Linked DNA regions of Homo sapiens: all the other regions are linked to region 1. Evidence: fine-mapped expression QTL. A gene starts in region 1. Each other region holds a variant in brackets. All regions are shown on one strand. Distances are from middle to middle.

Region 1 (9,309 bases):
TTGGCTCACTGCAACCTCCACCTCCCAGGTTCAAGCAATTCTCCTGTCTCAGACTCCTGAGTACCTGGGATTACAGGTGCCTGCCACCACGCCCAGCTAATTTTCGTATTTTTAGTAGAGACAGTGTTTCACCATGTTGGCCAGGCTGGTCTCGAACTCCTGACCTCAGGGGATCCACTCGCCTCAGCCTCCCAAAGTGCTGGGATTATAGGCGTAAGCCACCGTGCCCGGCCAGAGCCTACTTCTTTTTTTTTTTTTTTTTTTTTTTTTAGACGGGAGTTTCGCTCTTGTTGCCCAGGCTGAAGTGCAATGGCAAGATCTCGACTCACCGCAACCTCCGTTTCCCGAGTTCAAGCAATTCTCCTGCCTCAGCCTCCCAAGTAGCTGGACTGTGCCGGCCCAGAGCCTACTTCTTAAAGGTGTTTCAAAGGACTCATACTTGTTCTTAGTTTCAAATATTGTTTACTATTTGTATATTGCATTTCTAAAGCATTTTATACTTAGAGTAATAACTGTACTTTAGCCTTCTCTTCTTCATCTCCAAATATTTGTGTATTACAGAAGAGAAGAACTCCAATACATCGTGTTCTTTGTTAGAGATTTGAAATCTCATAGCCTAAAATTTTCCTCCTTGCAGCAATCACACACGGTAAAAAAGTCTGTTATAACATGGCGAGTCTGTAACATGTGGGTCCCTCGCAGCCTATAAAGTTTATTTATTACTCCCCCTCCTTCCACTGGAGCCTTCCTAATACTTAGGGTGAGGAATGTGGATGGGTTGGCCAAGATATGGAAGAACTGGGGAGAACTATACATGTGCCTACATGTATGAAAACATTTATGCTCATGTCAATTAAATGCATTATGATTAAAGTGATTTGCACATCCAGGATCCAAACAGGAAACAGGATGAGTAATGACGGGACAAACTCTGGACCATTGATACAAATACAGTAATTGAACCTAAAGAAAACAAGATCGGCCGGGTACTGTGGCTCACGTCTGTAATCTCAGCAGTCTGGGGGGCCGAGGTAGGCGGATCACTTGAGGTCAGGAATTCGAGGCCAGCCTGGCCAACATGGTGAAACCCCGTCTCTACTAAAAATACAAAAATTAGCTGGGCGTGGTGGTAGGCATCTGTAATCCCAGCTACTGGGGAGGCTGGGGCAGGAGAATTGCTTGAACCTGGGAGGTGGAGGTTGCAGTGAGCCAAGATTGCGCCACTGCACTCCAGCCTGGGCGACAGAGCAAGACTACGTCTTGAAAGAAAGAAAAAAAGAAACAAGATTTTCGTAAGAGCAGCAGATGAAAATTGCCAAAATTTACACATTTTTGTCCAAGAGTTAAGTATGAACAGATTAAGAGAAGTACAAAGTTTAGAGAAATTTAAAAACCTTTTAGAAAACCGTATATTGGACTCTAACATGAATGAAGAGTTTCAAAACATATTTTAGATGAAGGTTTTCGCTGTCTAAAAAGATTTGGCAGAAAATAAGCATATTGCCATAAAAGCAGAGAATCCAACTTTGACGATAAGGTCACTGAAAAGACTTAAAACAACTTTCATGGGTAAGTTACATAACTTCTCTGCCTCAGTTTACTCTTACATACATGTGATGTGACATAATGCACTTAGTGGACACACAGCATGCAATCACTATTAGCCATTCTGATGTCTTCTCCTCTGTGGCAAGTCAGGCAACGAGCAATAACACTTGTGTTTCCCTTACCCTCAATTATGAGAAGATATTCCAAGACCTCCAGAAAGCTTTTTGGTATTAGAAGCTGCTCTGAAGAGTTGGGTAGAAGAGGAGACTGGCTCTACTCTTTGAGCAAACAAGGTGTAGACAGCTCGGGGCCAAACTTAAGGGCTCCACCACGAAGGAAAGAGTGCTTCTGACAGTTACTTTGGAACTTGAGTATGTTTTTTTCTTATAAGCATAGTGGCAAAATAACTGAGAGTTACGCAACGAAATGCCTTAGGTGCCCAGTGGTGCTCACACCCTGATGCCGATCTCACACCCTGATGCCGATCTCACACCAGGGAAGCCTTTGAATGCTGAGGGTTAGTAACACCTTCCACTACATTCCAGAGTGGGAGAATGCTGGCCACACTTGCCAAAGCTGCAGTACAAGTTTAAAACAACCAACAAAAACAAAAGCCAAAATCACTTTTCTTTAGGAATGAGGTCAGCACTCTTTTGCACACTCGTTTGTGGGGAGTTAAATATTTGGTGAAGAAAAGGCAGCCTGCCCGCAGGCAAAGCTAGAGATTTCGGCCAGTGGGCATATCTTTCCAAACCCTTGCTACTCCTCTCGATTATTTTCTGCGACATAACACCACTCCACCCCTTGCTGCCTTTCTCTAACTACTTTCTGAAGGCCGTGCCTTTGGGGAAGTGGTTACAAATAAATGGTGTTTGCGCCAAAAGCTAGAGGTTCCTCCAGCTACACGGCAAACCGAAGGAAGCAGTCAGGACATTGAGAGGCACTACACAATGACAACAAACATTGCCAGCGACTGCTGAGCCCCTCCCCCGCGCCAGCCTCAGCCCAGAGAATGCAGGCCCGGGGCTGGCTCGCCGCGGGCCAAACACGGACGCAGCTTGCGCCGGGGGCATCCCGAGCAGAGGCATCCCTCGGTGCCAGGCAGCCGCGGGCCCTCTCCGGGCATCTCCCACCCGGAGTGCTGGGCCAGTGCCCAATAGGAAGCCCCGCGGGGGAACTTTCGCCACTCTTCTGCCACATAAACAAGTCGGGCTCAAGACCGTCCAATGACTGGGCAGGGCGGCGAAACACACTTGGAAGTCCTGGCAGCTTCCCGGACTCGACTGAGTTTAACACTCTAGGAGGAGAGGAACCCAGGGCGGATGCTTCACTCGCCCCCCTTGGCCAGCCCCTTTACCCAGGGCCGAGGATGTTACAAATACGGGCAAATTCTCGCTCCGGCAATCTTTTCCCCGCTGCCTTCCCCTCCTCATCTGCAGCCTGGAAGCAAGTTCAGCAAAAGGCTGAGGCGAAAGTGTTTCCGCGCCCCCGATCGCGCAGGCTCGGTCCACAGGGGCGACTTTCCGGGGCGCGTGGGCTGCAGCGGCCCGACTGCGCGGCGCTCCGGCATCGCGCCCGGGCTCAAGTTTCTGGGTCTTGGAGGCCCCTCCAGTGCGTCCTAGCCAGTCGCCGCAAAGAGTTAACCAAGTGGGGCCGGCCCCGCTCCGCCGCCCCCAGCAGCGCGTCTCCACCGCGCACCCCCGGCCCCGCGCTCGCGGCGATCCTCCTGAACCGCAGCTCTGTCCCGCCCCAGAGCCAGCCAGCCTCCCTCCCGCCCAGCCGACTTGGCTTCCCGCGCGCTCCTCACCGCACTCCTCCGGGCCCCGCGATCCTCCAGCACTTCCTCAGCTGGAAGGGGCTTCACGGAGGACCCTCTGCCCCCGCCGTTCTCCCCGCTTTCCTCCCCGCACCCCCCCAGGAGGTGCCAGTACCGATGCCCTGGATGAAGACGAAGCCGGTGACCATGAGCACTGGGTGCCAGTTAAACTCTAGTGCGCTCCCATCCCAGCCAAGCCCCTCTCGGTAGTGGAGGACCCAGACGAGGGCGAAGATCACCGACAGGAAGCCGACGAGCAGTGCCGACCCCAGCAGCGCCAGGAAGCGCCAGTAGCCCTCCATGGCCATCAGCGCCCCATACTCCGCACCGCGGGGGCCACAAGAACTTGGAGAGGCGGCGGCAGCCCTCTGGGTAGTGGCCGGGCGGCGGGACCGGGGCGTCGACTTCTTGGGGCTGTCTCCGCCTGCGGGGAGGGACTTTCTGGGCTGCTGGCCCGGAATGTGGGGCCTCTTGGGGGTGGGGAGCTGGCCCCAACTCAGAAATGGGCCCCACCCCCGGGATCACGCGGCCGCCGAGGGCGCTCATTGCCTGGTGGCCTCACCCTCTCCCTCGTCCAGCATCCAAGCTCGCAGAGGGCTTCAGTAACAGACCTAGTTAGTTGCTCAAAGAGAAAATTCCGAGGATTTTATACTCACCACTTGCTTTTAACACTTCCCGTGTCTCGTCCTTATTTGTGGGGAGGTTGAGTAGGGCAGTGGTGCGCCCTCTTGGTTAAGAGAAGAGAGGGATCCGTTGGGTAGGGTTATGTGTGTGCTTTTAACTACTAACGAAGCCTCCTTAGCCACAGTGCTGGAGAATTGGCTGTCTCTGACATCAAAGGGTGTTAAGGAGGAACCTGTAAGGTGGTGTAAACTAAAAATAAAATCCTAAGCCCCTCACTGACTGAATGGACCTCCTTGGCCAAGCAGACCCCAGAAAAACCTTAAAGCTGAGTTTCTAGCTACAGCCGGAAGGGAAGTCTACCCCCTCCATTTTGGAATTTAGACTCAACAGCTGACTAGCATTAATGTTTAAAATAGAAATCATAAGGCGGACAGAACAGACTCTTTGTAGCAATAAGACATCAAATTATAAAAAGGACCTAAGTCACACACTCCTACACTTAAGAAATAAACTATGGTCTAACTGCCACAAAGGTTTTCTTTTCCTCTAGAGGCTAAACAAGCACTGGCTTGAGATAAGCAATATTAAAACAATTACAACTTAATCAGTTCACAGATGCTGACCAGCTGAACCCCTGTTGCACCAGCCAGAACTACAGCTTTCACTGGGCTGATTTCAGGAACTTTTTCATGATAAGAAGACCGACCATGGACCGGTTCTGGCCAGTGTACAGGGATTGTGCACTTGTATGCATTCACGTCCTGAAAAGACCTTTTGAAGTGTAGGTTTGAAGTAATACATTTAAATGTATTTGAAGTAATACAATTAAATGTTAAGTCTCCACCCCAAAGAGAACATGTTACATGCATGTTTGTTCAATATGCATGTGTAAGGACCACCTCCATTAATATTCATAGCTCCTCCTGTAACCTGTTACGTATGTATGTTTGGCCAAACTGTTCAGCATAAAGCTCCTACCCCAACCCCTCTGCCTTCCAAGTGCCTGTCTCTGGTCTTAGGCCAGAGGCTATGTTTATCAGCCTATGGAATGGCCTCCTTGCAGGCTATAACCTTTTATAAGAAATAAAGTCTCCTCTTTTTTCAAATTTATAATTTTTTGTTTTAAGTTAACAGTAAAGGCCAGGCGCAGTGCCTCACACCTGTAATCTTAGCACTTTGGGAGGCTAAGGCGGGCAGATCACTTGAGTCCAGGAGTTTGAGAACAGCCTGGGCAACAAGGTGAAACCCTGTCTCTACTGAAAATACAAATGCATGCACCTGTAGCCCCAGCTACTTGGGGGACTGAGGAAGGAGGATCACTTGAGCCCAGAAGGTCGAGGCTGCAGTGAGCTGAGGTTGCACCACTGCACTTCAGCTTGGGTGACAAAGTGAGACTCTGTCTCAAAAAAAAACAAAAAACAAAAAACAAAAAAAACCCAGTAAACCGGGTCCCCATGAGGTGTCTCACAGCTGTAATCCCAGGGCTTTGGGAGGTGGAGGCAAGAGAATCACTTGAGCTCAGGAGAGGTATGATCGCACCACTGCACTGCAGCCTGGTGACAGCTAGACTCTGTCTGGAAACAAAACAAAAACAGCATGGGCAGCGGTGGGCTTGGCCTTATCCTGCAATGAAACTACTTGCAGTTTGCTCTTGAGAGAGGGAAGACAGGAACCTCCTGGACCTGGACTTGCCGTTTAGTGTGACAAATGGATTTTCAAAGTGCCCGCCCACCCAAACCAATTTGAACCAAAGCCCCTCCTTGATGAAGTGAAGCTTGCTCCCTGCCCTCTTTCCAACATTATCCTCACCCTTCTCCACTGGACAAAAACAATGTCAGCATTATCTAATGCTATTATAAGAAAAAGGGTTCTGACTGCCAGGGCTTCCAGAATGCATTTGGGAACGTTCACTTCTAGCCCTCTTCTGTAGCTCATCTCCAAGGACTACTTTGCTATATTGTCTTGTTGCCGTCTTGAAAGACCTTAGAATGTGCAGGAAGTATACGGGGATGATTTTCAAAGCAGGCTAAGGAAATAGGAGTGGCAAGCCATGGTAGTAGGGCAGGATTAAGGGCTCAGAGTAAAAGGCTGTAGACCTCACCTGTGTCATTATTTTTCCCTTGGTGGGGAGAGTAAGCAAATGGAAGAGAAGGATACCTTTCCCCAGCACAAGGCTTTCTTTGATCTGGTCCAGCCTAGCACCCCCTGCCAGTCTCTTACCACAACCTGACTGGCCCTGATGTCCTTGGCTGTAAACTGCTCTGGCAGCTTCTGACCACTTCCTACCCACGCCACTGCCTCTAAATTTCCCTGACCCCCATCTCCACTGAGAAACCTTCCCTGAGTCTGCCCCTGCCCAGACTTTTATATCCCACTGACCTCCCCATCCAGTGCCTCCTTGTGTCACCTGTCAGGATGTAATATAAGGATCTGCTTCTCTGGCTGTCTCCACTCTCAGACTGCCCTATTGAAGGCATTGATTCTCTAATTGATCATTTTATTCCTCCTTGGGATGTGGTAGTTACTCAATAAACATGTGTTGGGAGGCTAATGAGACTGAGTGTGTTAATCAGGGTCCTGGCAGAAAACAAACAGCATATTGGAATTGAGTAATTTCATAATGAACAAGACTGTTTATGAAGTTGTGGGCAGTGTAGGAAACCTCAGGGTTAGGCAGTGCCCCAGGTCTGAAGGGCAGAGAATTACTGGAATCCAGAGAGAAAATTGTGCGGAGGGGGAAGTCCGATAGAGGCCTTGAGTACAGGGATGCAGCCAGCCTGCAGAGACCTCATAGGGAGAAAGATGGAAGCAGATAAATATTCCAGCCTTACTCTTCTCCCCTCTGATCTTCTGCCTAGGGTGTCCCAGGGGCTAACCAGAACCTAATCAGAAGCCACAGGGCAGTCCATGTATCCATCCCAGGTCAACTTAGGGCACAGAGCAGAAGAGAGAAGAGTGAGAGCGGATCCCTAGGAATAAAAGGAAACTATCCCTGAATCTTCCGGTTTTATTTTTTCAGACCTTTTTTTGGTTCCTGAGTGCTGCAAACATTGCCTGTTTCATCTTACACTGATTCTTTTCCTTTGCGAACTTTAGCTTGTAATTCTATAATGACATCATTGTATCCCTATCCCTCTCCCTAAAAGTATCTAGTCTTTGTCCTCAATTAATGTTTTCACCCCATTGACCTAACACCTTCACTCCACTCTTGAGTTAATTTTGCTTCATAGCAGCAGCAGATGAGAATCTCTGGGATTCCAGACCCCATTTAACAAAACATTTCGGGAGGATGAAAACATGGCCAAATGGTACCAATGGTGTTGAATCATCTTGAAGTTATATGTAAAACTGAGAGAATTTCAACTTTTAAATTATCTTTTAAGAACCTAACTTTGATATTAAATAAAACTGTCACTGAGAAGGGGAAATTTTTCAATAAACATTGTTGTGGCTTACTGTTAACCTTTTAATTAATTAATTAATTATTTTTCTTTTTGAGACAGGGTCCCACTCTGTCACCCAGATTGGAGTGCAGTGGCATGATCTTGGCTCACTGCAGCCTCCACCTCCTGGACTCACCCTCCTGCCTCAGCCTCCCAAGTAGCTGGGACCACAGGCGTGTGTCACCATGCCTGGCTAATTTTTGTATGTTTGGTAGAAAGGGGGTTTCATCATGTTGCTCAGGCTGGTCTCAAACTCCTGAGCTCAGGAGATCCACCTGCCTTGGCGGCCCAAAGTGCTGGCATTATAGGCATGAGCCACCACCCCTGCCTGTGAACTTTTTTAAAACAGAGTTGTTAAATGATAGAAGTTTCCCTCTGGAGATTGTAAGCAGTTTGTCACCAAAGTACCTAATCAGACTCAATAACCTGTCAGCAATGCTGTTGGGTGATTCCTGATGTAGCAGGTGGGGGAGAGCATTGAAGAAGATGGCCTTCCTAAAAACCTAGAAGCTGGCCGGGCGCAGTGGCTCACGCCTGTAATCCCAGCACTTTGGGAGGCCAAGGCGGGCAGATCTTGAGGTCAGGAGATCGAGACCATCCTGGCTAACACGGTGAAACCCTGTCTCTACTAAAAATACAAAAAATTGGCCAGACGTGGTGGCAGGCACCTGTAGTCCCAGCTACTCGGGAGGCTGAGGCAGGAGAATGGCGTGAACCAGGGAGGCGGAGCTTGCAGTGAGACGAGATCACGCCACTGCACTCCAGCCTGGGCGACAGAGCGAGACTCTGTCTCAAAAAAAAAAAAAAAAAAAAAAAAACAAACAAAAAAAACACCTAGATGCTAGAAACATGCTCATGCAGAATTTTTTGTCCCTCACACAGATGTAGAATGTAGAGTAAGAAGACATGTTGTGAGGGTTGTGGAAAGAAAATCCAAATCCCACCCATCAGGAGATGAGGCACTGGGAGCCCTAGATGCCATCTGTCTTTTGAACTTCCACAAAATAATGTTGCATTTCTTCTGGTGCATACAGAAGTCCAGTATGCTGCTCTTCTGAGGATCCGGCAAGATGGCAGAAGTAGAGCAGAAGAAGAAGCGGACCTTCCGCAAGTTCACCTACCGCGGCGTGGACCTGGACCAGCTGCTGGACATGTCCTACGAGCAGCTGGAGCAGCCGATGCAGCTGTACAGTGCGCGCCAGCGGCGGCGGCTGAACCGGGGCCTGCGGCGGAAGCAGCACTCCCTGCTGAAGCGCCTGCGCAAGGCCAAGAAGGAGGCGCCGCCCATGGAGAAGCAGGAAGTGGTGAAGACGCACCTGCGGGACATGATCATCCTACCCGAGATGGTGGGCAGCATGGTGGGCGTCTACAACGGCAAGACCTTCAACCAGGTGGAGATCAAGCCCGAGATGATCGGCCACTACCTGGGCGAGTTCTCCATCACCTACAAGCCCGTAAAGCACGGCCGGCCCGGCATCGGGGCCACCCACTCCTCCCGCTTCATCCCTCTCAAGTAATGGCTCAGCTAATAAAGGCGCACATGACTCCAAAAAAAAAAAAAAAAAGAAGTCCAGTATGCTAACAGAAAGTCGTAATAAGCTGCACACAGTGGTTTGCTTTGTGGGATAAGCCGAACATTTTTCACTTCTGATTGTTGACTGTGTGTTGGTTCCTCTCTGTTTTCCCCTCCACTCTCCACCCTTTGCCTTGGCTTGTGCTCTGGGAGGCTGACGCCTACAACTGTGTCATCTGACTCTCCTTGTCCTCTGGCTTCCAATTGGGTTTGGCTGATGGCTGGTGCTGACTGGGGATTAGAAGGCAGGAAGCCAGGTCAGCCTATTTATCCCACTGTGACTCCTTGTTGGGACATGGTTTTGC
Region 2 (10,811 bases), 110 kb before region 1:
TGGCGACAAAGTGAGACTCTGTCTCAAAAAAAAAAAAAAAAAAAGGACCACAGAATAATAATGATCTAAAATCCAGAGATTTTTAAAAACTAAATAACAGAACATATTATTGTGGTTTTTAAAATCCTTATAAAGTTCACACATAATCATGTAGATAATTCAAGCAACTAAGAAAAACGTGAATAAAAAAGTAAAAGTTATTTATTCACATTTCTTTTGGCCCAGAAGCAATAAGTGTGTTTTAGTAACAATGCTTTGAAGTCTTTCTCTACAAACACAAACACTTTTTTTATTTAAATGGTATTTTATATGCATATTGCTTATAGCAAGCTCTTTTTAGTTAATAGTGTAGCTTAGAGATCACTCCATGATAACAATTATATATATATGGAATATTTTTTTTGAGACAGAGTTTTGCTCTTGTTGACCAGGCTGGAGTGCAATAGCATGATCTCGGCTCACTGCAAGCTCCGCCCCCTAGGTTCAAGTGATTGTCCTTCCTCAGCCTCACAAGTAGCTGGGATTACAGGCATGCACCACCACGCCTAGCTAATTTTGTATTTTTAGTAGAGATGAGGTTTTACCTTGGTGGTCAGGTTAGTCTCAAACTCCTGACCTCAGGTGATCCACCTGCCTCAGCTTCCCAAACTGCGGGAATTACAGGTATAGGCCACCATGCCTGGCCTATATAGAATATTTTTAAAATGCGAGTTTAATATTCCATTAGATGGGGCTAGACATGGTGGCTCATGCATGCAATCCTAGAACTTTGGGAGGGCTGAGGCAGGCGGATCACTTGAAGCCAGGAGTTTGAGACCAGCCTGGCCAACATAGCGAAATGCCATCTCTACTAAAAATACAAAAAATTAGCTGGGCGGGGTGGTGTGTACCTGTAATTCCAGCTACTCCAGAGGCTGAGACATGAGAATTGCTTAAACTTGGGAGGTGGAGGTTGCAGTGAGCTGAGATTGCACCACTGCACGCCAGCCTGAGTGACAGAGGAAGACTGTGTCTTCAAAAAAAAAAAAAAAAAAAATTCCATTAGATGGATGCAGCATAACTTACTTAGGGAATTTTTCTTAGATTTAACATATTTAATATTTTTCTATTATAGATAACACATGGCAAAAAAAAACTTGTAGCTAAACCTTTGAACATTTTCTTATGTAAATCATAGGATAAATTGCTATACACTGTTTATGGAAATCTACAGTGCCTTTGAAAGTTTGTTGTTTCTGTTGAGGTATATCCATAGCATTGACATCTCCAAGAGAGAAATAATAAGTATAAAGTTCTTGGAACAAACTATTTTTTTCTCCACCTCTGCTGCATTCTTTTTCTGCTAACTACTTATCCTCTGCTTTTTCATCTTGCTCTTGGTTCCAACTGCACCATGGTCTCAGTGCAATATCCTAATTAATATCTGTGGATTGACTAGTTGACTGGCCTCTGTCAGATCAGGTTTCTGGCCCAATAAGCAGTGGTAAGAAAGAAGAGCACAATCCTATGCATGACCTACTCACTGCCCATTCATTAGAAGTGAGGGGATTCTTTTTTTTTATTTTAGAGAAGATTTTGCTATCTTGCCTAGGCTGGAATACAGAAATGCAATGGCTATTCAAAGATATGATCATAAGAACTGTAGCCTCAAACTTTTGGCCTCAAGGGGTCCTCCTGCCTTAGCCTTCCAAGTAGCTGGGAGGGACTACAGGTGCACACCACTGTACTCAGCTGAGTGGTGGCTTCTTTTATGGGTGACTTAAAAAATTCAAAAGTATTTAGGAACCCAGGTTGTAAATCAGGAGGTGCTAAAATGATTTGAGGGATATTACAAACTGAACCAAGCCTTGGAAAAATGGTGATTAGCAAGAAACATGAGAGAGTGTTCCTGTATTAGTTAAGAAATGCAGGATTATAAGTGACAAGAACCAAATCAAAACCAGATCAAGTCAATGGTATTTATTGATTTTGACTGGAGTCAGTTTCCTAATTTGGGGAGACTAGGTTATTGGAAATCCAGAAATTAGTACATGTTGGCAAGATTTCAGATTAAGGAAGCCAATGCCTGAAGTTCTCATGGAGACCTAGAATGCTAAAATCATTCCAAAAGGAGACAGGAGGGAAAGGACAAAGGGGACAGAGAGGGAGAGGGAAGGAGGAAGGGGGAAAGAAAGAGAAAGAGAGAGAGGAAGGAAGAGGAGGGAGAAGGGTGGAAGAGAGGAAAAGGCAAAGAAAAGGAAGGAAGGAAGGAAGGAATCACTTATAAACTTTACTTGCTAGTGGAGATTTCCTTGAGTCACACCATATGCAATTCCTTATTCTGAAATCTGAGGGGTCCTTAAAGGGTGTTGGGCCTGCAGGTGCAGACTATGGTGAACAGCTGGGGTGAGGCTGGGTAGTCAGGGAATAAGAATTGAATGGATGTGAAGTTTGTGTATCAGATAATATTCATGCAAATAATTTCAATTTGGAAAAATCTGAGGTCATGATGCAATTTGCCCTTTTCAGTCCCAGATTTCTTCTGGGTTCTATGTTTGTGGCCTAGGACTACTTTTCAAGTTTGAATGAGCCCTAAAGAAATTTGGAGACCATTCAGATTCCAAAAACAAACAAATGAATCTCTTGTCATTTAATGTAACTGTGACAGGATCTCACAGATGAAATGAATCTCAAGAATTTTATTTTTGAGGGCCCAAAGAGAGCTTGGTAAATGTACAATGAGATGTAAGGAAGAGGGAAAGTCACTGAAGTTCTTCAGACATTATGGTTACCAATTATATTAAATTGGTCAGGGTGTTGGGTGTTTGCTGGAGTGAAAAGCATATTTGTTATTTTGTTATCATGATATTAAGAAAATTCACTTTTTTTTGAGACAATCTCACTCTGTCACCTGGGCTGTATGTAGTGCAGTGGTGCAATCACAGCTCATTGCAGCCTCAGTCTCCTAGGCTCAAGAGATCCTCCCACATCAGCCTCCTGAGTAGCTAGGACTACAGGTGTGCACCATCACACCCAGATAATATTTTTAATTTTTATTGGAGATGTGGTCTTGCTGTGTTGCCCAGGTTGGTCTTGAACCCCTGGCTTTAAGCAATCTTCCCACCTTGGCCTCCCAAAGTGCTGGGATTATAGGCATGAGCTACCATGCCCAGCCAGAAAATTCACTTTTAATAATATTGAGATTCAAGGTTTGGATACAAAACAAGATAGAATCATCTAAAGAATTATAACATTTTACTCTAACACTTCTTCCAGTGTTAATTTTACTGGAAAACTTGCCTCAACACCCAAAACTAGATGTTAATGGGGAAAATATTTATAACTATTTATTGATGGTATAAACCAAAAAGTATCTGAGACAGGTCTCAATCAGCTTAGAGGTTTATTTTGCTGAAGTTGAGGACACACCCAGGAAAAAGAGACACAAGCCACGGTAGGATCTGCAGCCCATACTTTTTCTGAAGACCAACCTTCCTTCCTTCCTTCCTTTCTTCCTTCCTTCCTTCCTTCTGATTCTCATTCTGTCATCCAGGCTGGAGTTTAATGGCGCAACCTCAGCTCACTTCAACCTCCGCCTCTTGGGTTCAACATCTGCCTCGCCAGTTCAAGCAATTCTCCTGCCTCAGCCTCCCAAGTAGCTGGGATTACAGGTGTGCACCACCATGTCCAGCTAATTTTTGTATTTTTTAGTGGAGACGGTATTTTGCCATGTTGGCCAGAGTGGTCTCCAACTTCTGACATCAGGTGAGCTGCCTGCCTCGGCCTCCCAAAATGCTGGGATTACAGATGTGAGCACTGCGGCCGGCCCCAAAGAGGATTTTGAAGGCTTCAACATTTAAAGGGGAAAACTGGACATGAAGGGAAAGGGGAAAGAAAAAAAGAGGGAGGGTATGGTGACATTCTTGTGAATCCACATATTGCACATGAAAAGGAGAGGGTAGAGGAATCAGTCAATTATGTATTCATTTCACAATCAGTAAATCTGTACTTTACATAAGAAAAAATAGGCTGGGCATGGTGGCTCACGCCTGTAATCCCAGCACTTTGGGAGGCCGAGGCAGGTGGATCACCTGAGGTCATGAGTTTGAGACCGGCCTGGCCAACATGGCAAAACCTTGTTTCTACTAAAAATACAAAAAATAGCCAGGTGTGGTGGCATGTACCTGTAATTCCAGCTACTCAGGAGACTGAGGCAGGAGCATCACTTGAACCCGGGAGGTGGAGGTTGCAGTGAGCTGAGATTGAGCTGAGATTGTGCCACTGCACTCTGGCTTTGGCAACAGAGCGACACTTTGTCTCAAAAAAAAAAGTAAACAGAGTAGATGAAGCAGTCAAATATGCCTTTGTCTAAAGTAGGGGAGATGATTTCTAATCTCCTCTTGTTGCGGGAATGAAGGAACTGGAGAGACCAATAGGTGGGACAGGAGGATTTTATTTAGGTGCACCAGCTCAGCGGATTTGCATCCAGAAGGCTGAGACCCAAACAAAGACAGGGCTTGACTTTTATACATGCATCTGTGGCTCGAAATGCAGTGGCGCAAAAGTGGGTTTACGGAAGCAGAACAAAGGCAGTTTATCAAACAGAGACAGGCTCATAACTCAGGCTTTCATGTGACTCTTGCTATGTGGGCCAGGTGGCTGTTATCTAGGCTTGCTCAAGATGCCTGCACAATCTTATCTCATGTCCTCCACTATGGCGCCCAGATGGCTGCAATCTAAGATTGCTCAAGCATGTCTCATGACCTCCATGGTGCTACTCAGATGAAAAACAGACTTACAGACACTAGTTACAGAAAACAGGAACCTATAAACTCATAAAAACTTGCAGAGCAGGGTACAATCACACGAGGCGGGAGGGATTCAAGGGAGAAGCTGCTCATACCAAAGGAAAGGAAGAAAATTTGTTTTTTCTTCTGTATCACCTGCTTCACTCTTGTCCTGCACC[C/T]ATAGAGATAAGCTGTTAATTTTCATTTTCAGGGTCAGGGTGGGAGGTCCCCTGTGGAGGCATGTGGTCTTTTATCTGTACCTTTCAGTTTAGGAGCAAAAGGCAAGGCAGTTTTTTTGTGACTCAGTTTTCAAGCTTAACTTTTCTCTTTTGGCATAATGAATTGGGAGTTCCTACTTTTTATTTTTCTTTCACAATGAAATGATCTGAAATTCAATCTAAAGCAATGAGTTTACTGGATGTGGGGGTTGGTAGGTGACAATGTCACCTTTGAATGCCGGGTGGTTTAGAAGACTGTGTTTAAGTGTATATGTGGGTCCATTTCCAATGCAGAAATAGATACTGTAGAGGAGGAAAAAAACTCCTCTTTCACTCATCTTAAGTTCTCCAGCTGGTGCCATATAAATTAGGCTGGCTAAAGACAGATTAACAAGAAAAAAAAATAAACAGATGTTTATTAGCATATGCCTGGTGCTTACATATGGGCATATTCAGAATTGATTGACTCCATTAGGTGGTTAGAAGTTGGCTTTCTATCATCTTAGGCTTAAACAAGGAAAGAAGAGTTTTAGGCTTCTGCATGGGGGAGGAAAGTTAGGGGTAGGTGACCAGGAAAAGTATGGTAAACAAGGGTCATTGGTTTGTTATGCAGATGGAAGTACCTTCTCCATTGATAGGAGTTGTTAAGGATCCTCTTCCTCCTGGTACAGAGGGAAGCACCATTTCTATATGTAAATTGACTTTCTAAATGTAATTTCCTGGTCTTCTGGTTCTCAGCGGGCTTTAGCGCAAAATAAGCCAAATGCCAAATAGGCATATTTTAGGTTGGCATATTCTGATACTCCTCAATATTCATATGAAACTGAATATAAACTGTCTTGGAGATTGACTTTCAAATGTCCAAGAAGCTCAGCTCCAGAAGGGCTGCTACCAGAATGAGGCCTGCAGAATCTGCATTCAGAAATGTGACTGTCTTGGAGAATTAAGAGAAAGAGAAAGAGGAAAACACCAATCCAGCTATTCAAATGGCTTTTGATGTATAGGGGCTAAATTCTCACATCTGGGTGTAAATAAGTAAATATGCTAAAATAACACATCTGTAAAGTTGAGAGTTTTGTCCCGAGAATGAAACAATAAATTATAAAAAAGGGGATTTTAGTTTTAGAAATATATTATTTAGAAATATATTCATTTTAAAATACCTTTTTAATTTCTAAAGTTACTATGGATGTCTACATCCCTGTATTCCCCCCACAACCGCCTTTCTTTTTTTAAAGACATGGTCTTGCTCTGTCACCAAGGCTGCCGTGCAGTGATGCAATCATAGCTCACTGCAGCCTGGAACTCCTGGGCTGAAGCCATTCTCCCACTTCAGCCTCATGCGCCACCACAACCAGCTAATTTTTAAATTTTTCTGTAGAGATGGGGTCTCACTGTGTTGCCCGGACTGCCCTTGAACTCATGGCCTCAAGTGATCCTCCTGCCTTGGTCCCCCAAAGTGCTGGGATTATAGGCATGAGCCACCACACCAGTCATTCTTCATTTCTTATTCTGACAGACTGAGACTAAATGGAGGAGAAGAAGAATGGATGTAGTCTGGAAGTATAGCATTATTCAATTTGGCTACTTCTATGTTTAAACTGAGAAAAGAAAAATAGGTCAGAACACTTTGAGCTATCTGTGGTATGCAACATTTAACAGGACCGGAGAGACATGAGGATAGAACTTCAGTAATAATCCTGCTGCCCAACATGCCCAGGGGCAATTCTTTGAATTTTATTCTTTCTTTTCCTCTCTGTAGTTTCCTCACTAGCTGCCTCACTCATTATCTTTATGTTTCTAGAATTTGGGATACAAGGAACAATGTAATGCAAGGAACAGACCAATCAACAGCTTTTGTTATCTTAATGTAAATTCTTGGTAAACATCTTAGAAACTGCCTCTTCTTTTTTTCCTTTAAAAACTGACTTGTGGCCAGGTGCAGTGGCTCATGTCTGTAATCCAAGGAATTTGGGATGCCAAGGTGGGTGGGTCACTGGAGGTCAGGAGTTCCAGACCAGCCTGGACAACATGGTGAAACTCCATTTCTACTAAAAATACAAAAATTAGCCAGGCATGGTGGCATGCACCTCTAATCCCAGCTACTTGGGAGGCTGAGGCAGGAGAATCGTTTGAACTTCAGAAGCAGAGATTGCAGTAAGTTGAGATCGTGCCACTGCACTCCAGCCTGGGTGACAGAGTTAGACTCTGTCTCAAACAAAAATAAATAAAGGCTGGGTGCAGTAACTCACACCTGTAATCCCAGCACTTTGGGAGGCCAAGGTAGGCGGATCACCTGAGGTCAGGAGTTTGAGACCAGCCTGGCCCACACGGTGAAACCCTGTCTCTGCAAAAATACAAAAATTAGCTGGGCATGACGGCAGCCAGCTGCTTGGGAGGCTGAGGCAGGAGAATCACTTGAACCCAGGAGGCAGAGGTTGCAGTAGGCCGAGATCACGCCATTGCACTCCAGCCCCAGTGACTGAGTGAGACTCTGTCTCAAAAAAAACAAATTAAATTAAATTTAAATAAATGAATAAATAAGATATAACTTGTAACTGCTGCTAATCAGAGAATATATTCAGGGCAACTTGAATCAATGCTTCTGGGCTATACTCCTTAAACTTGGCCCAAATACACTTCCTACTTCCATTAATTTTGTATCAGTTTTTTCCTTCAGGTTGACATATGTGGTGTATGTCACCAGATTTAAAATGTCACCAGCAGGATTTAAAATGACAGACTGCCGACTATCTGGCATTCCTTCTCTGATTCAATGCTTGGTACCAGCACAAACCCACTGTGTTCTTCCAACTCCAGAGGTTTCAGTGGCCACAAAAGTTTCAGTCCTGAATCTGGATCTCCATTTCCTTTTCAGCTGAGGTCTAGATTTTATTTGGGCTGTGTTTTTCAAACCCTCTCTTTCATGGTTGGGCATGGTGCCTCACTTCTGTAATCCCAACACTTTGGGAGGCTGAGGCAGGAGGAGGGCTTGAGGCCAGGAGTTCAAGGCCAGCCTGGGCAACAGAGTAAGACCCCGTTCCTGCAAAAAAATTAAAAATTAGCCTCACTACTCAGGAGGCTGAGGCCAGAGGATTGCTTGAGCCCAGGAATTTGAGGTTACGGTGAGCTATGATCACATCATTACACTCTAACCTGGGCAAGTGAGTGAGATTCCTGTTGTCATGGAATCCTTGGGGTGTTGCTTCACCAGCCAGAAACCTCTGTGGCTAGCAGTACATTCTGCCTGAGTGTTGCTTGCACCTGCTGGGCTCATTCTGCCCACTCTGCCTGGCAGGCTGTGCTTGGCTTGCACTACCGGCCTGGATCTGACACCTGCCAAAGGCAAGCCAGGCAGGGAGTGGCGAGGGGTGTGTGGGTGAGCGAGTGCGAGGTGAGGTCACTGTGCACAGCCAGGGATGCTGGCTGCTGTGGCAGGGCAGGCAGCTCCAGGCTCTGGCACAGGTGCCAGCTCCATGTGAAGCTGTGGCTGGAACAGATGCACCACACACAGCTTCTGCTGCAGGCATCCACGTCTGGATGAGGGGAATGTGGTGGTACCCAGAAGCTTGGAGATGCCAGGAACCACACAGCCCCAAAGAGGGTGTCACAGCTCTGGCTTGGGGATCCCCTAGGTCTGGGATCCCTGAAGGGCCACAGCTTTTTTCCCCTTCTCATTGCCCACGGTGTGGCAAACAGGGAGGTGGGGCACATGTTTCAGCCCTGTTGGTGTTACAGCTCTTTCAGTCCTGCCATTCGGCGGTTCCTGAGTTCTTGTCCCACGTACAAGAAGAATGAGCTACACAGACCACTGCAGGGTGAGCAAAGTAGAGAGGAGTTTCATTGAGCGACAGAACAGCTCTCAGGAGACCCAAAATGGGTAGCTTCTTTCTGCAGGCAGGTTGTCCCATTGAGTGTCCAGCTGTCAGGAGACAGGAGACCCAGAGTGGGTAGCTCCTATTCACAGGCAGGTCGTCCTTACATCTGTCTGAGTCCAGGGTTTTTATGAGCTCAGAAGGGAGGAAATGCATGCTAATTGGCCCATGGGTGGTCATGGATGGGCTCGGAAAAAGCACCATAAGTTCTCATTCCAGGTGTGGACTCCACCTGGAAGTGGCAGACTGGCCCCCAGGCTTCAGGCCATCCCTGGCTTGAAGGTGGATAGGGACCTGCTCTTTTCTGCCCAGGAACCTGTCTACCTCCTGCTAACAACATTCCATCCATGGCACCCAGGCTTTTCATGATAAGGGGTACCTGCAGGCCCACACCGAGCTGCCCTCAGCACCCCCCACCACCTCCCTCCTGCACTCATCAGTGACCAAAGTCCAAAGGGGGCCAGGGCGGCATGTCAGCACTGCCCCAAGTGCACACACACCTGGCTGGGTCACGACAGCATCTGGCTTTGGCCACAACTTTGCTTCTGCAACAGAGTGGGCACTGAGTGCAGGGAGAGGCCAGGGAGTGAGAGCAGGCACTTCTGAGCCTGTGGGGTCAGGGGGCACTTCCTGGGCCCCCAAGAGCACAGGGATGCCTGGGTCTGGAGCTGTAGCTGGGCAGCTGCAGCTACACTCAGGGAGCACAGGTTTCCTGCCCTGCCAACTTGGAAGCGGGCAGGGCTCCTGCCTGTTTCAGCTCCTGCTGGCTCCATGGAGCATGCAGCCCTGGCAGTACTTCCCCTACTGCAGCCCGCATCTTCACAGCAGCTGCTCCAGACAGGCTGCCACTGCCATCACTGTATCTAAAAAATAAGAAAAAAGTCAAACCCTCTCTTTCCTCTAAGAGTGAGGGCTTTGGTCTCAGTGTCTGGATGGGAGATTTGGATAAACAGGTCTGCAGAGAACTGCTTTTTCTGCCTCTACCTCAGGGCAAGAAGTTCAGGTTATGGTATGGGCAGTCTGGTACCAGTAGTTACACTTGTTTTGGCCTAAAATTACATAGCATGCTTTAAAAATTGCAGCTATTGGCTGGGTGCAGTGGCATCTCTACAAAAAATTTAAAAATTAGCCAGATGCAGTGGCATGTACCTGCAGTCCCAGCTACTTGGGATGCTGAGGCAAGAGGACTGCCTAAGCCCAGGAGTTCGAGGCTACGGTGAGCTATGATGGTACTACTACACTCCAGCCTAGGGTCCAGAGTGGAAGTCCATCTCAATTAATAAATAAAGTAAAATAAAATAAAATTGCAGCTGCTATCTACTCCTTGTAATTTAGACTTGCATTTTCACTTGTGACCAATTCCTGTTAGTTTCAAACTGAAAGGTGCATAGTGTGAGTTTTCTCGCCTCCAAGAGAAGAGGCAACTGCTCCCTCTGACCCATTCAGGTGTTCTATGTGACTAGAGACTTTATAGAGGTGTCAGGAATATTGTCTGGGATGGGAAGCAGCCTCATAGGGCATTTTTCACCAGAAGAACATTTTAGGGAATCTAACTCATCAGGAAAGGTAAAAATTAAGGAATTGGTTACCCCAATACCTTGAGCACCCTACTGCCACCTGGCAGTTAGAGGCAGTCTGGGACACATAACAGAGAGAGTCTCGACTTTTGGATGACACCCTGAGGAGTGACACTCAGAAGAAGCACACTTCTCAAAGCAAAACGCATTTCTGGCCTTGGTCACTTTTGAAAAGTTCCTAAATTATGGGAATTCAAGCTTCAAAATCGGAGTGCTCTTTTAAGGGACAGCCTCCTTTAGAAACACCAGCTGGTTTTTATGTACAACACTTACAAGGCGTCCTCTTATAATATCTAGGAAAATGAACCCACATGACCCAGGATGGTCATAAGCAGCAATGGCTGAAATGAGGGTCCTTTGAAATGCCTAAGATAA
Region 3 (10,811 bases), 47 kb before region 1:
TATGTGTTTGTGGTGTTTATTAATCCACAGAAATATTGTTTTTGATAGACAACCTAAGATAAAGGCTAATAAAAGACTGAGAATGTGGACTCGATAATTTTGTTGGCTTCAGGATAAAGAAAAAAAGTCAGTAAATGGTACCTGAATCCTCCAATAATTACTCCATCTTATAAATTACTGTTTTCTCTTATTCCAGCCCACAGTCTGTCATTCTAGAAAGTATGATATATTAATTTTTAGCTAAGCAATATCCACAGGGAGTAATCAGAGTTGGCACTGTACAGGTGTTTTTCCAATGAAAAGGTTACTGTTGGAATTATTTATAAGCAACATCAGAACACTGAATATTAACAAACTGAATTTCACCTGGTTATTAAGTAGCAGGAGATACATATGCACCAAATCATCCCGCTTTGACCTTGAATGGTTGTATGTTTATCCAAGAAAGAAGCTCCCCCATCTTCAATGTGCTATTAACCTTCCTTTTTGTCCTTTTTCATTTCTTCCCTTTTAAATTTTATTGTAATGAAATAGTTAAGTCCTACACAAAGGTGTAAACCTATGATACTGATTCTACTTGACTCTGCCACTCAGCTTGGGAAACGCATTACCATCCAAACAGGTGAAGCCTTTGTGCCCCCTCAGCTGTATTCCCTTCCTTCTCTTTACAGTTTCCACTTCTCTAAATTTGGTGTTCATCATTCCCATTTGTTTCATTACGCTTTTGCCGATACATATGTGTTCCTAAACGGTACAATGTACGGGTTTCACGTTTCTGAAACGCTGTTGAGATGGTATCCGTGTTTTCTGTAACTTGGATTTTTTTCTTTCAGTATTAGGATTGTGAGACCCATCCATCATATTAATTTCCCAGAATTGTCGTAGCAAACAACCACAAACTGGGTGACTTAATAAAACGAAAATTTATTCTCTCAGAGTTCTGGAGGCCAGAACTCTGAAATCAAGAGGTGGGCTGGGCTGGGCTCTCTCTGGGGCTCTAAGAGAGAATGTGTTCCTTCCTTCTTCCAGCTTCTGGTGGCCCAAGGCATTCCTTGGCTTGTGAATCTCTGTTTCTGTCTTCACATGGCCTCCTGCTCTCTGTTGTGTCTTCCTGTCTTAGAAGGACACTTGTCATTGGATTTAGGGCCCACCTGATCCAGAATGATCTCACCTTGAGGTCCTTAATTACATCTGCCAAGCCCCCAGGCAATACATGGTGGAGGTAGGTGTCCAACCCATGCATTTTGACCAACTCCTCCAACCACTGGATGACATCGCCTCTAAGCTCAGAAAGCTGCAACTTCTGCTTACACAAATAATGGGCATTTAATGTGGCACTGGATCCAATACTCAGCTTATATAGGTGAGAACTAACTAGTATTGGAGGGTTACAGGGCAAGGAATTGGGCATAGGTTGGGAAGGCAGGCAATCTGGGTCCTAGAGTTAATTCTCTGTTGATCCCTAAGCTCCAAGAAATAGGATACTGCTTCATCCCTGCTCCTCTTCCAAGCCACTTCACCCGATTTAACAGGAAGGGAGGTCAGTGAAAAGAACTAACTGGGTATGGACTGGAAATGCACAATAAAAAAATTTTAAAATATATGCATTTCTTTGGATTACTAAAGTAAAAATATTATAGAAAATTTGGGTAATGGAAGAAAAAATCATCCCCACCCACTCCTCTAATCCCTCTACTTCTCTTCTATACACACTTAAAGTTGTAATCATTTGATTTTAGCGTTATAACTATGGAGACAAAAGTGGATCCCTCTTAGATGCTAACCTGTCCGGTTGATTTCTGATTAGCTCCAGTCCCGTGAATGCCTCCTGCTTCCTACTTTATTTGCTGTCCTTAGTCTAAGAACATGTCAACTTTGATGTTATCACACAAATTATAGGACATGACGCACAGCCTTCTTGCCTGTTCAATAACAGTGCAGAGATCTACCTGTCTTGCTGCTGCCCAAGACCACGCTTCTGTCTGTAAGTTCCCCAATAAAATACCCTTTACTGACACACTGGATTTGTTGGCCACCTTCTTTGGTTTCTTGGCTCTTCAGCATTTGGGAGCAGCTTTGCATATATGGCCATTTCACAGAACAATAGCCTACGATATATTACCATTTTTCTTCTTGCTACATGGCTTTCACAGTTGATTTTCTAAAATAAGACAAGTACTGATATACAACATGGTGACTGAGACAGCCAAGGAGTGCGCACTGGGGTGGAGCCTCCGGAATTTCGCCCCATTTGCAGGCAGAGAGGAGCTGGCCTCTCCGGTTCCAGGGTGGAACCTGGAATTCAATCTGTGATTCTGGAAAACCAGCTAGCAGGACTCTCACTCTGCCGAGAGTCCGTTTCCCTTTTTTTTTTTCCTTTTTGCCTAATAAATTCCATTTTTCTCATCCTCCAAATTGTCTGTGAACCTAATCTCTCATGGCCATGTGACAAGAACTAGGCTTTCAGCTGAACTAAGGAGAAAGTCCTATAACTCTAGTTAATGATATGGTATTGTGTACTTAAAACTTGCTAAGACAGTAGATCTTACGTGTTCTCACTAAACACACACACAAGTGGTAGGCTTTGTAGGTGATGAATGTGTTAACTAACTTGATTGTGGTAATCATTTCACAATGTATAGTATATTGGTCATCACACTGTACTCCTTAAATATATATAATTTTGGCCAGGCATGGTGGCACACATCTGTAACCCCAGCACTTTGGGAGGCTGAGGCAGGAGGATTGTTTGCACCCAGGAAGTCAAGGCTGTAGTGAGCTATGGTTGTGCCACTTCACTCCACCCTGGGCAACAGATCAAGACCCTATTTCAAAAAAAAAGAAAGAAGAAAGAAAGAAAAAAAAGAAAGAAAGAAAGAGAGAGAGAAAGAAAGAGAAAAAGAATATATATATATATAGTTTTATATGTCAATTATGCCTCAATAAAGCTGGAAAAATAAAATGACAGGTATTCTAATCTTTACTTTACAGCTACAGAAACTAAAGCTCAGGAGACTGACTTGCTGAAGGTCCCACAATTAGTAAGTGATAAAGCTGGGGACCATGAAGCCATTGTAATTCAGAATGTATAAAATGTTGCAACTGCTGCAAGATTGTATTTCAATATGTGGATTTTTTTTCTTTCTTTCTTTGGAGACAGGGTCTTGCTCTGTTACCTAGGCTGGAGTGCAGTAGCATGATCATGGCTCACTGCAACCTCAACCACCTCGGCTCAGCAATCCTCCCACCTCAACCTCCCAAGTGGCTGGAACCACAGGTATGTGCCACTGCACCCTGCTAATTTTTTAATTTTTATAGAGATGGGATCTCACTGTGTTGCTGAGGCTGGTCTTGGTCTCAAACGATCCCATCTCAGTTTCCTGAAGTGCTGGGATTATAGGTATCAGCCACTGTACCTGACCGATAATGTGGATATTCTGAGTAGGCATTTGCATATCAATATCTGGTTACCTGTTGCTGCATAACAAATCACTCTAAACTTTGTTCCTTAACATAATGACTGCATTTATTTTGCTCATTAATTTGTAATTTGGGCAGGGCTTGAGAAGGACAGTTTGTCTTTGCTTCTCTTGGCATCAGCAGGGGTGATTTGAGGCTGGTGGCTGGAATCATCTGAAATCTCACAGGTCAGCTAGTTGGTGCTGGGAGCTCAGCAGGGCCTATGGCCACAGCCCCTCCACTTGACCTTTCCATGGGGCTCCTTGGCTTTTTCACACAGTGCTGGCTGGGTTCCGAAGGTAAACATCCCCAGAGAGAAGAGAAGAAGGCAAAAGCTGTGTCCCCTTTGGTGACCTCCTCGGAGAAATCTTACAGATTCACTTCTGCCATATTTTATGGGTTAAAAGTTAGTTGCTGAGGCCAGCCACGATTCAAGGGAAGGGGAATTAGGCTCTACCTTCTGCTGAGAAGAATATCATAGAATTTGTGGACATATTTTAAAATCATCACAATTTGCCCGTTGGACATACATTACCTACATTTTCCCCTACATGCAAAGTAGACTCACTCCCCTGCCCTAAACCCCTTAAACATTGTATCTCCTGTAGCATCAGGCTGGGGCTCAAGGTCCATGATCTTGACATATAAATCAGGTGCAGGAGTGGCTGAGGCTCCTTGGGTGCTGTTCCTGGAGTAGAGCCCCTGCAGTGCAGTTCCTCTCCACCTGAAGACTTGGGAATCAAAGGACAAGCTGCCTCTCTGCTCACTGCACCCAATATATTGTACAATAGTGGAGCAAGCACAGGATAATCGCTGCAGACGCTTCTGTTCAAAAAGGGGGGAAATGGGAGGCACACAGCAGCCACTGGCGCACAGCGATTCTGAAATCCAGCTGAGCGTATGTTGCCAGTTCCTTGATAGGGCTTGGTCCTACACCTGGAAGTTGTCCACCTTGCTTTTGGCTCCACCCACTGCACTCTCGGTCCCACCTTCTGAGCCATTCTTTCTTTTCCATTAAAAGTAGCCCATGTTGGGCTGGGTGCAATGGCTCACATCTGTAATCCCAGCACTTTGGGAGGCCTAGGTGGGCAGATCACCTGGGGTCTGGAGTTCCAGACCAGCATAACCAACATGGAGAAACCCTGTCTCTGCTAAAAATACAAAATTAGCCAGGTGTGGTGGCGCGTACCTGTAGTCCCAGCTACTCGGGAGGCTGAGGTAGGAGAATCTCGCTTGAACCTGGGAGGTGGAGGTTGCAGGTGTGCCGAGATCACACCATGCCACTCCAGCCTGGGCAACAAGAGCGAAACTCCATCTCAAAAAAACAAAAAAAAGAAAAAAAAAAAGTAGCCCATGTTTGCAGCTGAGTGACAGTCTTTTTAGATTGCTTCCTGCTCTTAGAAGCCTGGAATCCAAAGGCCTGAATGTCCCTTTCACTCCAAGCTAATTCTAATTCTTTTAAAATATGTATATATAGTCTTCTTATTAATCAATTTATAACTAACTCCATTAGGCAAAACCCATACCAATAAATCTCCTTTAGCCCTTCTCTCCCTTCTCCTAAAGCTGCGGTCCAATAATTCCCTTGAGATCTGTAGGCCTTTCAAGCCAGCAATGGTGTGTTGAAAACAAATAAAGAAGGAACAAACAAACAAACAAAAAAGTTGCTAGGCCTTTTGTCTGCTTGAAAGGGCCTATGAAACAACACCTTATGGACTTTCTGAGGTCTCAGCAAAGAGTCTTATAGTCATGCCCAAAAATAAACTCACTTTATTTTTGAACCATATTTTTCTTTATTTTTTTTTTT[C/TC]CCGAGACAGGGTCTCATTCTGTCACCTAGGCTGGAGTGCAGTGGTGCTACCTCCTCTCATTGCAACCTCCACCTCCCGGGTTCAAGCGATTCTCCTACCTCAGCCTCCCGAGTAGCTGGTACTACAGGTGCACACCACCACACCTGGCTAATTTTTGTTAGTAGGAACAGGGTTTCTCCATGTTGGCCAGGCTGGTCTCGAACTCCTGATCTCAGGTGATCCACCCACCTCAGCCTCCCAAAGTGCTGGGATTATAGGCGAAAGCCACCTCACCCAGCCCTCAAATTGTAGATTCATGAATAAATAGATGTTGTTACTGTTTTAATTTATTAAATTTTGGGGTGGTTTGTTATGCAGCAATAGATAACTGGAACAGAGTTTGGTAGCACAGCAAAAACTGCTAACGTGTGGCAATGGCTTCAGGACTGGGTGGCAGGCAGAATTTGAGAGTCTTCAAGAGACTGTTAGTGGAAACCTCATGGTTCTTGAAGAAGTTATTGGTTAGGGCTTATGGGAAAGCGAGGAAAATGTTACTGAGAGCTGTCATATAGCAGCAAAAAGTTTAGCAACACTGTCACCTGTGGTAACATGGAGAATAGAAAATATACCAAGTTAACTGAACCGTCTATCTAAGGAGATTTTTGGGAAAAGTGTTGAAGAAGCTGCCTGGTTTTTCTCACTGAGTATAGTAAACTTCAAGAGAAAGAGAGAAGTGAAAGAGAACTGTGAAATATAGAGGGGCCAGGAATTGCTGGGTTTGAAAATAAAAGTTTCTCCTTTCTAGCTTCTTCATACGGCAAATGAAATGGCTTCCCGGTGAAGATTGAACCCAGGAGGCAGAGGTTGCAGTGTGGTGAGATTGTGCCACTGCACTCCAGCTTGGGCGACAGAGCAAGACTTCGTCTCCAAAAACAAAAAAAAAAAATTTGGAAAGAACTTAGAGGGGACGGTTTATCTCTGCTCAACTCAGTGTCAGCTGGGGTGGTTCAAAGATTGGGGGCTAGAATAAACTCAAAACTCACTCATTCACGTGTCCGGTTGGCTGATGTTGGCTGTTAGCTGGGAGCTCATGCAGAACTGTTGTCCAAATATCAACACGTGACTTTTCCATGTTGATCGGGTTTGGCTCTTTGTCCCCATCCAAACCTCATGTCAAATTGTAATCCCTATGTGTGGAGGGAGGGACCTGTAATCCCCATATGTTGAGGGAGGGAGGTGATTGGCTCATGGGGTTGGTTTCCCCCCATGCTGTTCTCATGATAGTGAGTGAGTTCTCATGAGATCTGATGGTTTTATAAGGGGCTTTTCTCCACTTTGCTTGGCACTTCTCTCTCCTGCTGCCATGTGAGGAAGGACGCGTTTGCTTCCCCTTCTGCCATGATTGCAAGTTTCCTGAGGCCTCCCCAGTCGTGTGAATTGTGAGTCAATTAAAACTCTTTCCTTTATAAATTACCCACTCTCAAATATTTATTTATAGCATGTGAAAATGGATTAATACACATGTAGTGTTTGATTTCCCCATCAAATGACAAGGTGGTTGGGTTCCCAGAGCAAGCATTGCACACGAGAGAGAGAGAGAGAGAGAGAGAGAGAGAGACAGCGAGCTAGGAAACCTAGTCCCTGAAGTCGCATAGTATTGTCTGCTGCCTTCCTGTTTTGTTTGTTTGTTTTAGAGATGGGGTCTTGCTCTGTTGCATAGGCTAGAGTGCAAGTGGCAGATCATAGCTCAGTGCAGTCTTGAATTCCTGGGCTCAAGCGATCTTCCCACCTAAGCCTCCTGAGTAGCTGGGACTACAGGTGTGTGCCACCATGCCTGGTTAATTTTTATTTTATTAGTAGAGATGGGGTCTTGCTATGTTGGCCAAGCTTGTCTTGAACTCCTGGCTTCAAACTTGGCCTCCCAAAGCGCTGGGATTACAGACACGAGCCACTGCACCAGTCTTGTCTTCGATTCTTTACAAGTGAGTCACTAAGCCTGGCCCATGTTTAAGGAGAGGAGAATAGGGTTCTATCTTTTGATGGGAAAGAGTGTCAAAGAATTTGAGGACCTGTTTTAAAACCACCAATATTAAGGTATCCTTAGCTCCATTTTATAGATGCATAAGCTATAATTCAGAGAACTTGCTGAAGTTCTCACAATTAGTAAGGGATAAAGCTTGGGACCATAAAGTGACTGTACTTTACATACTTAAATACATTATATATAATGTACAATCTGTAAGGCAATGTAAAGCTATGACATGTTATTAATTGTCTCAGTTGAGCTTTCCTAGCTTCTTGACACAAGGAAGGGAGCCCATCAGGCATGTGGGTTATGAATCAAGAAGCTTTATTATTTTTTGTATAATAAAATATGAGTTTGTTTTGTTCATAAGTGTTCTCTTATCAGATCAAACTCTCATAATGGCTGGAAACACCTTCTGTCCTGATTTCAGAGCATATAACTAGGTTCTATATTCCTATCAACCCTCTATCTAACTTAACATACAACGTACCTTTACCTTGCTAGCCCTATGTTTGGCTAAGACAGCTGAGCTGAGGGGAGCTCTTTGACATTGCATAATATGGAGCTCTTTGGTCTCTCACAAAGAAAAAATGTGCTCACCAACTTTTGCTCAAAGGTATTTTTGGCTTTATAGTTAAATTTCTGGTTAATGATCAGTTTTGCTAATTGAATACCTCACATTTCTTTTGGTTAGATGGCATTTATCTGTATCTGTGTGTATATGTGTTCAAATGTGAGTGCATATCCTCATGGGAGCATGTTTCCAAATAGTTTGCTTTCTAATTGTTTGTTACTAACAGCCCTTTGAATTTTCTTAATGAGCACTTTGTTGTACAATGAGGAAAAACAATTAACTGCACAAAATTTTTGTGCGATCACAAAAGACAATCAAATTATGATATATCAAAAACAAAATAGAGCAAACCATTGTGCTTAGCAATGTATGGAAATATCTTCTGAGAAGCAAACAAATAACTTTTCCGGACACTATGGTGTTTTTTATGATCATGTTTAGTTTATGTCATCTTTTTCATGGAACAAAAACCAGTCTCTATGGCTTTTGGCCCATAGTCCCCATATCTTTTAAAACCTGTGACCTTAACCACTGTGTACAGTATTAGATCTTCAAAGGTGTTTTGCTCAACCTCTCCTTCTCTTGCAATAATAGCAAACACATAAACACTAGTACGGATTATTGTTGCTAGAAAAGAATAATGAATTGTACATTGTGGTAAATAAGGTATTTAAAACACCATGTTTGGGAATTTACCACCGTGATCTGTAATTTCTCTTATTGCTTTTTGCTCAGGGTTTCATCCCTCCTCCCTGCCCTCCAAGCTAATCTGGGCCAAGTGGATTCTGTTCTGACCCATCTCTAACTCTTTACTCAGTCTATTCCTTACCCTATTTTGCCTTTTTTTCTTTTCTTTTTTTTTTTTTTTTTTTGACATAGAGTTTCACTCTGTTGCCCAGGCTTAAGTGCAGTGGCACAATATCAGCTCACAGCAACCTTCGCTTCCTGCCTCCCGGGTTTAAGCGATTCTCCTGCCTCAGCTTACGGAGTAGGTGAAATTAAAGGTGTGTGCCACCACACCTGGCTAATTTTTTGTATTTTTAATAGAGACTGGGTTTTGTTATGTTGGCCAGGCTGGTCTTGAACTCCTGGCCTCAAGTGGTCGGCCCGCCTCAGCCTCCCAAAGTGCTGGGATTATATCTGTGAGCCACTGTGTCTGGTCCCATTTTTGCCTCTTTTGTCACTTTTACAAAGCCTACTAACTGTCTCTCTTTTTTGGAGCCCTCGATACCTAGATTACAAAGGTTTATTCCAGTTGTAAGCCATGAGAATTGTAGGTAATTCTGTGCTGAAGGATGGAAATGGTGTATGAATTAAACTGGCTGCAATAGTCTATAAAATAACAGATTCATAGCTTTCAGCATGAGCCCCAGGCAGTGCCTAGGAGCAGTGCACACAAGACATCCTCAATCACTAATTGGTGAGTGAATATAAAAGGACCTGTTTTTTGTAGCAGATGGAGAGATTAAGCGGCTTGCCCAAGATTACACCCGTGGACCATGATAGAGTTCCTACAAGAATCCAGATTTTTCTGTTTTGTCCAGTTCTTACAAGTATATACTGCCCAGCTTCCAGTGATTGCATGACCTTCGGAAGACTTGTAAATGTTTATGTCTCTGCGATCTGGAGATTAACAATGCTGCAAAGCAAATAGTCCCTCAGGCCATTCCGGTATCTGACCAAGTTAGGATCTTGGCAAATGCTTTAGTTCCTCTTTCCTGGTGTTAGGAAAACATTTATTTCAATTATAAATATATTATCTTCAATTTCTTGATAAATTAGACTAAGCAAACATTTGGATGATGTCAATGAGGCAGACGGGATTCCGATAATACATGTTTTTCTTAGTACAAAAGTGATACTTAATTATAGAAAATACAGAGAAAACAAAAAGAAGAAAATGAAAAATGCCCATTATCCTACCATGTCTCAAAGATAACCATTTTTTAACATTATTTTATTTTATTTTACTTTATTTTTTGAGACAGAGTCTTGCTCTGTCACCCAGGGTGGAGTGCAGTGGTGCGATCTCGGCTCACTGCAAGCTCTGCCTCCCAGGTTCAAGTGATTCTCCTGCCTCAGCCTCCCAAGTAGCTGGGATTACAGGCCCGCACCACCACATCTGTCTTTTTTTTTTTCCTTTGTACTTTTAGTAGAGACAGGGTTTCACCATGTTGGCCAGGCTGGTCTCTGACCTTAGGTGATCCACCCACCGTGGCCTCCCAAAGTGCTGGGATGACAGGCATGAGCCACCACACCAGGCCAAAGATAACCATTATTAACTAATTAACTATTTGGTATATTATGCCTCCAGTTATTTGAAAGTGTATGCACATTCACATTTACAAACTCTTTTATATTCAATTTCTTTCACTTAATATTTTATGAACATATTTTCATATTGCTAATTATTCACTTGAACAATATAATTTTTGATGACATAGTTTTTGTATAGTGTAACTTTGTATTTGGCCATTCTTTATTAGACATTGTTTCCAAATACAAGAAATCTTTAAGATGATTTGCCACACAGATACAATCACTACAGTGGTGATTCTCAGTCTCTACTTGCACTCCATTCGCAATCCAGTGCTCTGTTAAATGAGACAGAGACAGAGAGAGAGAGAGAGAGAGTGAGAGGTTGAGAGAGAGAGAATGGAGGAAGGCTAGGCAAGGAGAGGCCTGAATCCTAATCATCACTCCACACTTTTCCACACCCTTGAGTTTTATTTGCACTTTTGCTTGCTCTTGGGGTGAATTAGCTCACACTTAAGGCTGTCACTGCTCCTCTTGCCTCACACCCTTTTACTTCCTTCATTTGAGTGTTCCAGGTGAGTTCACTGGGCCAGAACCTCCTACAATCTGCTCAAGACCTAGAGGTTTGAATGGGGAATGTGAGCGCTGATAGAGACAGGGAGCCAGGTCGTGGGTTGGGGAGGGCAAGGATGCTTCCTGCCCTCCTCCT

The links.
Region 2: its variant is fine-mapped to the expression of CYBRD1 in subcutaneous fat (GTEx, PIP 0.98).
Region 3: its variant is fine-mapped to the expression of CYBRD1 in subcutaneous fat (TwinsUK, PIP 0.95).

The regions. Positions count from the first base shown.
Region 1 is chr2:171,516,909-171,526,217 of GRCh38, reverse strand. It overlaps CYBRD1 (cytochrome b reductase 1), which reads right to left and starts at 3,744. Exons shown (of 4, transcript NM_024843.4): 1 at 3,480-3,744. The coding sequence starts at 3,672. It also overlaps the pseudogene RPS15P4. RefSeq lists silencers at 3,106-3,175, 3,326-3,435 and an enhancer at 3,546-3,655.
Region 2 is chr2:171,625,176-171,635,986 of GRCh38, reverse strand. No RefSeq gene overlaps it. Among named protein-coding and RNA genes, the nearest start is that of DYNC1I2, 57 kb to the left of the region's middle. The variant C/T (reference allele first, on the strand shown) is at 4,946.
Region 3 is chr2:171,563,315-171,574,125 of GRCh38, reverse strand. No RefSeq gene overlaps it. Among named protein-coding and RNA genes, the nearest start is that of CYBRD1, 46 kb to the right of the region's middle. RefSeq lists a silencer at 6,048-6,219. The variant C/TC (reference allele first, on the strand shown) is at 5,267.